Homo sapiens: one gene and its partner. The protein of the gene in region 2 purifies or fractionates together with the protein of the main gene of each other region. This does not show direct contact. Each region holds a gene or a part of one and is shown on either strand. Other genes may lie near its edges.

Region 1 (3,649 bases), on a different chromosome or scaffold from region 2:
CAACATGGTAAAACCCCGTCTCTACTAAAAACACAAATTATATATATATACATATATATGTGTATATATATACATATATATGTGTATATATATACATATATATATGTATATATATATGTATATATATACACACATATATCTGGAACCTCCCACCCAGGAAGTGTAAGCACACCCAAGGTATGAGCAGATTAAAGAAATCCTGCAGAAGGGGGAACACATGCATAGAGTATGCTGGCAAGGTCACATATAGAAAATGGGTGGGGGGACTTGAAAGCAGAGGTATAAATCCTATGTGCACCTTATTTGCTCAAGTCTACATGGACCAGCATCCAAACATTGAAATTTTCCTTTCAAATTCAATCCCCCAGAGTGTATGGTCTCAGGACCCTTCTTTCCCCCAAATCTTTTCTAGTGGGGATGCATGTATGCAGACAATGCAAAGTGCTACAAATCGCAACACCAAATGCATCAAGAGGTAGATTATTAGTATGAGTCAGTTTCACACTAACTTTACCAAAAACCTCACTGCTCACATTAGCTCAAGTAATCTACTTACAACCACAATTATAAATTCTGAGCTTCCTTGGCTGACGAGTTTGCAGTAGGTGGTTCTTGGCCCTGAGGGCTGCTGAGATGCCCGCCGTTATGAGATGCCCACTGAGAAAACCACCGCCCTCTCCCAGCAGGGTCCAGCAGGAGCAGTGTCTGCTCTCGGCTACACAACTCCATTCATAGACTTTTCCAGTTACGTTTGAGGTTCACCCAAAGGAGGTAGTAAAAACAGGAGGTGGGCACTGAAGCTGGCCTGGTATGTTTGAATTCCAGCTCTGCTTTTTATCAGCCTCCAGGTTTTCTCAGTTTCCTCATCTGTAAAACGGGAATAATATTACCTGCCTCACAGAGTTACCATGAAAGTAAGAAATAAAATATTCAAAGTATATGACATGGCTGGGCGCAGTGGCTCACGCCTGTAATCCCAGCACTTTGGGAGGCCGAGGCAGGTGGATCGCCTGAGGTCAGGAGTTCGAGACCAGCCTGCCCAACATGGTGAAACCCTGTCGCTACTAAAAATACAACATTAGCTGGGCGTGGTGGCACAGGCCTATAATCCCAGCTACTTTGGAGGCTAAGGCAGGAGAATTGCTTGAACCTGGGAGACGGAGGTTGCGCTGAGCCGAGATTGCACCATTGCACTCCAGCCTGGGCAACAAGAGCGAAACTCCATCTCCAAAAACAGCAACAACAACAAAGTACAGGACACTTGCTCCATGCTCCATAAAAGAAAGTTAATATTGCCATAAAGGAGACCAAAAAAATCACAGAAACCCACGACGTGATCCTGATGGGAGCCCTGTTAAGAGGGGCTTCCAGGCCAGGCATGGTGGCTCACGCCTGTAATCCCAGCACTTTAGGAGGCCGAGGCGGCCAGATCATCTGAGGTCAGGTGTTCAAGACTGGCCTGTCCAACATGGTGAAACTCCATCTCTACTAAAAGTACAAAAATTAGCCAGGTATGGTTGCGGGCGCCTGTAGTCCCAGCTACTCGGGAGGCTGAGGCAGGAGAATTGCTTGAACCCGGGAGGTGGAGGTTGCAGTGAGCCGAGATCGTGCCACTGCACTCCAGCCTGGGTGACAGAGCGAGACTCTGTCTCTAAATAAATAAATAAATAGAGGGGCTTTCTGCCAGGTCCATAGCTGCCTGCACACATAGTCCAGAAATGTGACCTCACTCCCTAGCTCCTGCTCCACTCGCCACCATCAACCTGCTGGCCTGTCATTCATGGTGTCTGGTGACTCTCCCTGCCATCCCATTCCAAACCCCTCAGAAAAGCTTATCCAATTCCTGAGTGAAAAGAATGGGCCTAGAAGGGCTGAGTTTAAGTTAACCCAAAGAAATAAACCCAAACTCCTTCATTCTCCAAGCTGTTCAGGCCTCAGGGACATGTGTGGGGTGACTGTGGGGCACACACTATCATTCCCCATGTGGATCCATCACGGGGCCTAGCACACAGGAGGTGCACACTCAGTGACTGTTCTGTTGTTGAATGGCAGGATGAATCTCACTCCTCCCTCAAGACCTGAAAACTTGAGAGTTATGAAGGCATGTTTAGGAATGACTGTAAAATACCACTTTTCAGAAAACACAGAAATCTCCATTTGATTCTTTCATTTGCAAGCCTGTTTGATCTGTCTACACACTGGTTGGTCTCTCGTGTCCCAGAAGCAGAGGGCAAGACACAAAACCAGAGTTCAGGGGAGCAAAGCAGACATTTTAGGAAGTTATTGCCCAAGTTTCACTTCCACGTCGTCTTCTGCATTCTACTTCAACTCTGGTTTTGAGCAAAGCTGGGGCTGGTGAAGAAACTTCCCTTAGTCTACATGTTCCTCTCCCTGAGTCCCAGCACTGAGGCTCTGTAGACCAGGGACTCAAATTACTGAGCACTCACTGATGCTAGACCCTATGTCAGGCATATTCAGACATCTTCTGACCTAAGAGCCACAACAAGCTGGAAAACAGACACTGAGATGCCAAGAGAGGTTATGCAATGTGCAAAAGACTTCACAGTCAGGGAGTCGGGTCTGAATCAAAGATCTCCTTGGCTCCAAGGTCCTTGCTTCTCAACCTGCCACTGTCCTTTTTCAAAGGCGCCAACCACTAACATGGCAAAGTGTTTCATTTTTCATAAAGCCATCTGAGGAGTTCAAAAGCATCTTTTTTTTTTTTTTTGAGACAGAGTTTCCCTCTTGTCACCCAGGCTGGAGTGCAATGGCACAATTTTGGCTCATTGCAACCTCTGCCTCCCAGGTTCAAGCAATTCTCCTGCCTCAGCCTCCCGAGTAGCTGGGATTACAGGTGCCAGCCAACACGCCCAGCTAATTTTTGTATTTTTAGTAGAAACAGGGTTTCACCATGTTGGCCAGGCTGGTCTTGAACTCCTGACCTCAGGTGATCCACCCGCCTCGGCCTTCCAAAGTGCTGGGATTACAGGTGTGAGCCACTGCGCCCGGCCCAAAAGCATCATGAAAAACTGTCCCCCTGCATTAAATTCAGATCCCATCTCTGCCAGAAGGATAGCCCTGGACAAATCATACAGCTCTCACCCACCTGTGACTATGCCCCATGGGAGAAGGACGTGTATATGGAGGCTTTCTGCTAGACTATGCTAGATGCTTTGATACACATTATCCCACTCAATCCTCCAAACATTCCAGGGAAGCAGGTGATAGTAGCCCAGCTTCATCAATGACAATTCTGGTTCTGCAGTGGGATGTGATTTGCCCAAGGTCATGCAGCGCTGAGAAGCAGGCCCAGGGCTCCATCAGCCCTGCCATGCAATAGGCTTTGTTGAGTGAGCACTGGATGTAAATTCCAAAGAGCTTAAAGCGGCCAGACAGAGCCAGTGACAGGAGACTCTATTAGGCAGATGAGGAAAGAATGGAGCTTTTCTTCCTCCTACCGCCCAAGCCTTTCCCATCCTTAACTCCTCTGCACAACGGGGCCCTCACTGTCCTTCCCCCACCTTCTTATCAAAGGATGCTGGTGCTGGGAGGGGGAAAAGACAGAAAGAGGATTAGTCTCTGGCATGGTTTATGTTGATTTCAAAGCTGTCACTTTTCCCACATTGGGCCTTCTTTTTCACTGTGGATT
Region 2 (3,649 bases):
TCCTTCCTGGTCTTCCTGCCCACAGTCCCGCCCCTCCACTCCCAATTTGTTCTTCCACATCAACTTGTTGGAGCAGTTTATAAAATCAGACAGTTACGATGTGGGAGATCGTGCAGCCAAGCGAAAACGTTTCTTCCACACCATATAAATGGGGGTGTGGGGTTTCTGGATTAAGAGAGATTTAAGAAACATCAGCACAAACGCAGGATGTGGACCTTGCCTACAACAAACAATTCAGTAAAAAGACATTTTAAGACAATTGGGGAAAACTGAACATGAACTGGTTATAAGATAATTGTAAGAAACTGGTCAGGCATGGCGGTTCATGCCTGTAATCCTAGCACTTTGGGAAGACGACAAGGTGGGAGGATCGCTTGAGCCCAGGAGTTCGAGACCAGCCTGGGCAACATAGGGAGACCTCGACTCTACAAAAAAAAAAAAAAATTAGCCATGTATGGTGGTACATGCCTGTAGTCCCAGCTACTCGGGAGGCTGAAGTGGGAGGGTCACCTGAGCCTGGGAGGCAGAGGTTGCAGTGAGCCGAGATTGCGCAACTGTACTCCAGCCTGGGTGACAGAGCCAGACCCTGTCTTTAAAAAAAAAAAAAAAAAATTCATTTTGCTAGGTGTGATAACTGTATTGGTTTATACTTCTGAAACAGTCTTCTGTTAGAAATCAGTCTGAAATAATTACGGATAAAAGATCTGATGTCTGGGATTTACTTTAAAATAGTGCAGGACAAAAACTTAGAGGTGTGGGCAGGGCAGGGAAGAAGATTGGCAAAGTGTTGATAACTAGTGACACAGTGATGGATACTGAGGGCTCTACTTTTTGTGTATGCTTGAAAACACCCACTAACAAGTCTTTAAACAACTCAACAACAATAAAACACAAATAACCTGATTCAAAAATGGGCAAAGGACTTGAACAAACATTTCTCCAAAGACATACAAATGGCCAATAAGCACATGAAAAGATACTTGACATCTCCAATCATTAGGAAAACGCAGTATCAGAACCCTGATGAAATATCATCTGACAAACACCAGAACAGCTACTATTGAACAACAACAAAAAAGAGGCCGGGCATGGTGGCTTGTGTCTGTAATCCCAGCACTTTGGGAGGCTGAGGCAGGAGGATCTCCTGAAGGCAGTAGTCCAAGACCATCCTGGGCAATGTAGCAAGACCTTGTCTCTACGAAAAAATATTTTTTAAATTAGCTGGGTGTGGCAATGTGCATCTATAGTTCTATCTACTTAGGAGGCAATGTGGGAGGATTGCTTAAGCTCAGGAATTTGAACGCTGCAGTGAGCTATGATCACACTACTGCATTCCAGCCTGGGTGATGGAGGAGGAGGGGAAGGGGAAGGGGGAGGGAGTAAGAGGGGGAGGAAGAGGAAGAGAAGAACAGTGTGTGTGAGGATGTGGAAAAACTGCTGGAACTCTGGTACACTGCTGGGAATGTAAAACGGTGCTGCCACTGTGGAAAACAATATGGCAGTTCCTCAAACACTGAAAAATAGAATTACCATATGACCCAGCAATCCACTTCTGCTTACATACCCAAAAGAACACAAAACAGGGTCTTGGAGAGATATTTGCACACCTGCGTTCGTAGCAACATAAATCAGGCCTGGCGTGGTGGCTCATGCCTGTAATCCCAGCACTTTGGGAGGCTGAGGTGGGTGGGTCACTTGAGCCCAGGTGTTCAAGACCAACCTGAGCAACAGGTGAAATCTTGTCTCTACAAAAAATAGAAAAATTAGCCAGATATGGTGGCATGTGCCTAGAGGCACAGCTACTCAGGAGGCTGAGGTGGGAGGACTGCTTGAGCCCAGGAGGTTAAGGCTACAGTGAGCCATGATCACATTACTGCACTCTAGCCTGGGCAAAAGAGCGACATGCTGTCTCAAAAACAAACAAACAGACAACAGAAACATAGCAGCATAAATCACAACAGCCAAAAGGTGGAAGTGTCTATCAACAGATACATGGATAAGAAAAATGCTGCATATACATACAATGGAATTTTATTTTATTTAGTCTTTTTTTTGGGGGGAGGGAGGAGATGCAGTCTCACTCTGTCACCCAGGCTGGAGTGCCATGGCGCAATCTCGGCACACTGCAATCTCTGCCTCCTGGGTTCAAGTGATTCTCCTGCCTCAGCCTCCTGGGTAGCTGGGATTACAGGCTCCCGCCACCATGCCCGGCTTATTTATTTATTTTTGCGATGGAGTCTCACTCTGTTGCCCAGGATGGAATGCAGTGGTGTGATCTCGGCTCACTGCAACCTCCGCCCCCTGGGTTCAAGCGACTCTCCCGCCTCAGCTTCCCAAGTAGCTGGGATTACAGGTGCCTGCCACTGCACCTGGCTATTTTTGTATTTTTAGTAGAGATGGGGTTTCACCATGTTGGCCAGGCTGGTGTCAAACTCCTGACCTCAGGTGATCCACCCACCTCGGCCTCCCAAAGTGCTGGGATTACAGGTGTGAGCCACTGCATCTGGCCTGGAATTTTATTTAGTCTTGATCTGACACATGCAACAACACAGATGAACTCTGAGGGCCATTAGGGTAAGTGAAATAAGCCAGTCAAATACTGACGATTTCACTTATATGAGGTAGAACAGTCAAATTCCTAGAGACAGACAGTGGAATGGTGGTTGCCAAGAGCCTGGGGGAGAGGGAAAGAGGGAATTGTCCAATGGGGATAGAGTGTTTTAGGAGAGGAAAAAGTTCTGGAGATTGGTTATACAACACTTAACATTAGTGAATTGTACACTTAATGATCAAAATTGTACACTTAAAAATGATCAAAATGGTAGATTTTATGTGTATTTTGCCACAGGTAAAAATAATTTTAATAGGCCAGGCACGGTGGCTCACGCCTGTAATCCCAGCACTTTGGGAGGCCGAGGTGGGCGGATCACTTGCAGTCAGACCTCAAGTGATTTTGAATTCAAGTTCAAGACCAGCCTGGCCAACATGGTGAAACCCCGTCTCTACGAAAATTACAAAAATTAGCCAGGCCTGGTGGCGTGTCCCTGTAATCCCAGCTACTCGGGAGGCTGAGGCAGAAGAATTACTTGAACCTGGGAGGTGGAAGTTGCAGTGAGTCGAGATCACGCCACTGCACTACAACCTGGGCGACAGAGCAAGACTCCATCTCAAAAAAAAATTTTTTTTGTTTTAAGTTTTAAAAAATAAAAGCTTTCTCAGTGGTTGTGGGTGAGGATTATCTGATGAGGGACCCTCTAAATGTGCCCCACTTCTCCGGTTTCCGGGTGCCACTTATTCCCAGCATCTGCTCTTACCCTCTTAGATGGTAATCCACTCTCTATTTAGACCTGGGCTCAAGGCTACCCATAATAAAGACCTCCTTTTCCAGCCTTATTTGCAGCCAGGGGTGGCCACATGATCAAATGCTGGCCAGTTTGTCCTTAGCAGCTGCCAGAAACTGAGACTGTAAATGTTTATTTCAAGCTGCTAAATTTGGGGATAGTTTGTTATATAGCATTAGATAACTAAGACACATCTCATGCATATCCCATCTTCACAATGTTTTCCATATCTGTGATATTACTTATTTCATATTTTTCTTAAAACTAACCAATTTTAACTATTAAACAAAGATACTTAAAAGAGAAAC

What was found.
Region 1: the proteins of THAP8 (region 2) and CYRIB purify together in Homo sapiens (affinity purification with mass spectrometry; one large-scale study listed by BioGRID and IntAct). This does not show direct contact.

Annotation. Positions count from the first base shown.
Region 1 is NC_000008.11:130,006,557-130,010,205, forward strand, and holds part of CYRIB (CYFIP-related Rac1 interactor B), read right to left. Parts: intron 1,898-3,649; exon of another isoform or gene 1,778-1,897; intron 1-1,777. UniProt on the Homo sapiens protein: Negatively regulates RAC1 signaling and RAC1-driven cytoskeletal remodeling. Regulates chemotaxis, cell migration and epithelial polarization by controlling the polarity, plasticity, duration and extent of protrusions.
Region 2 is NC_000019.10:36,040,719-36,044,367, forward strand, and holds part of THAP8 (THAP domain-containing protein 8), read right to left. Parts: intron 1-3,649.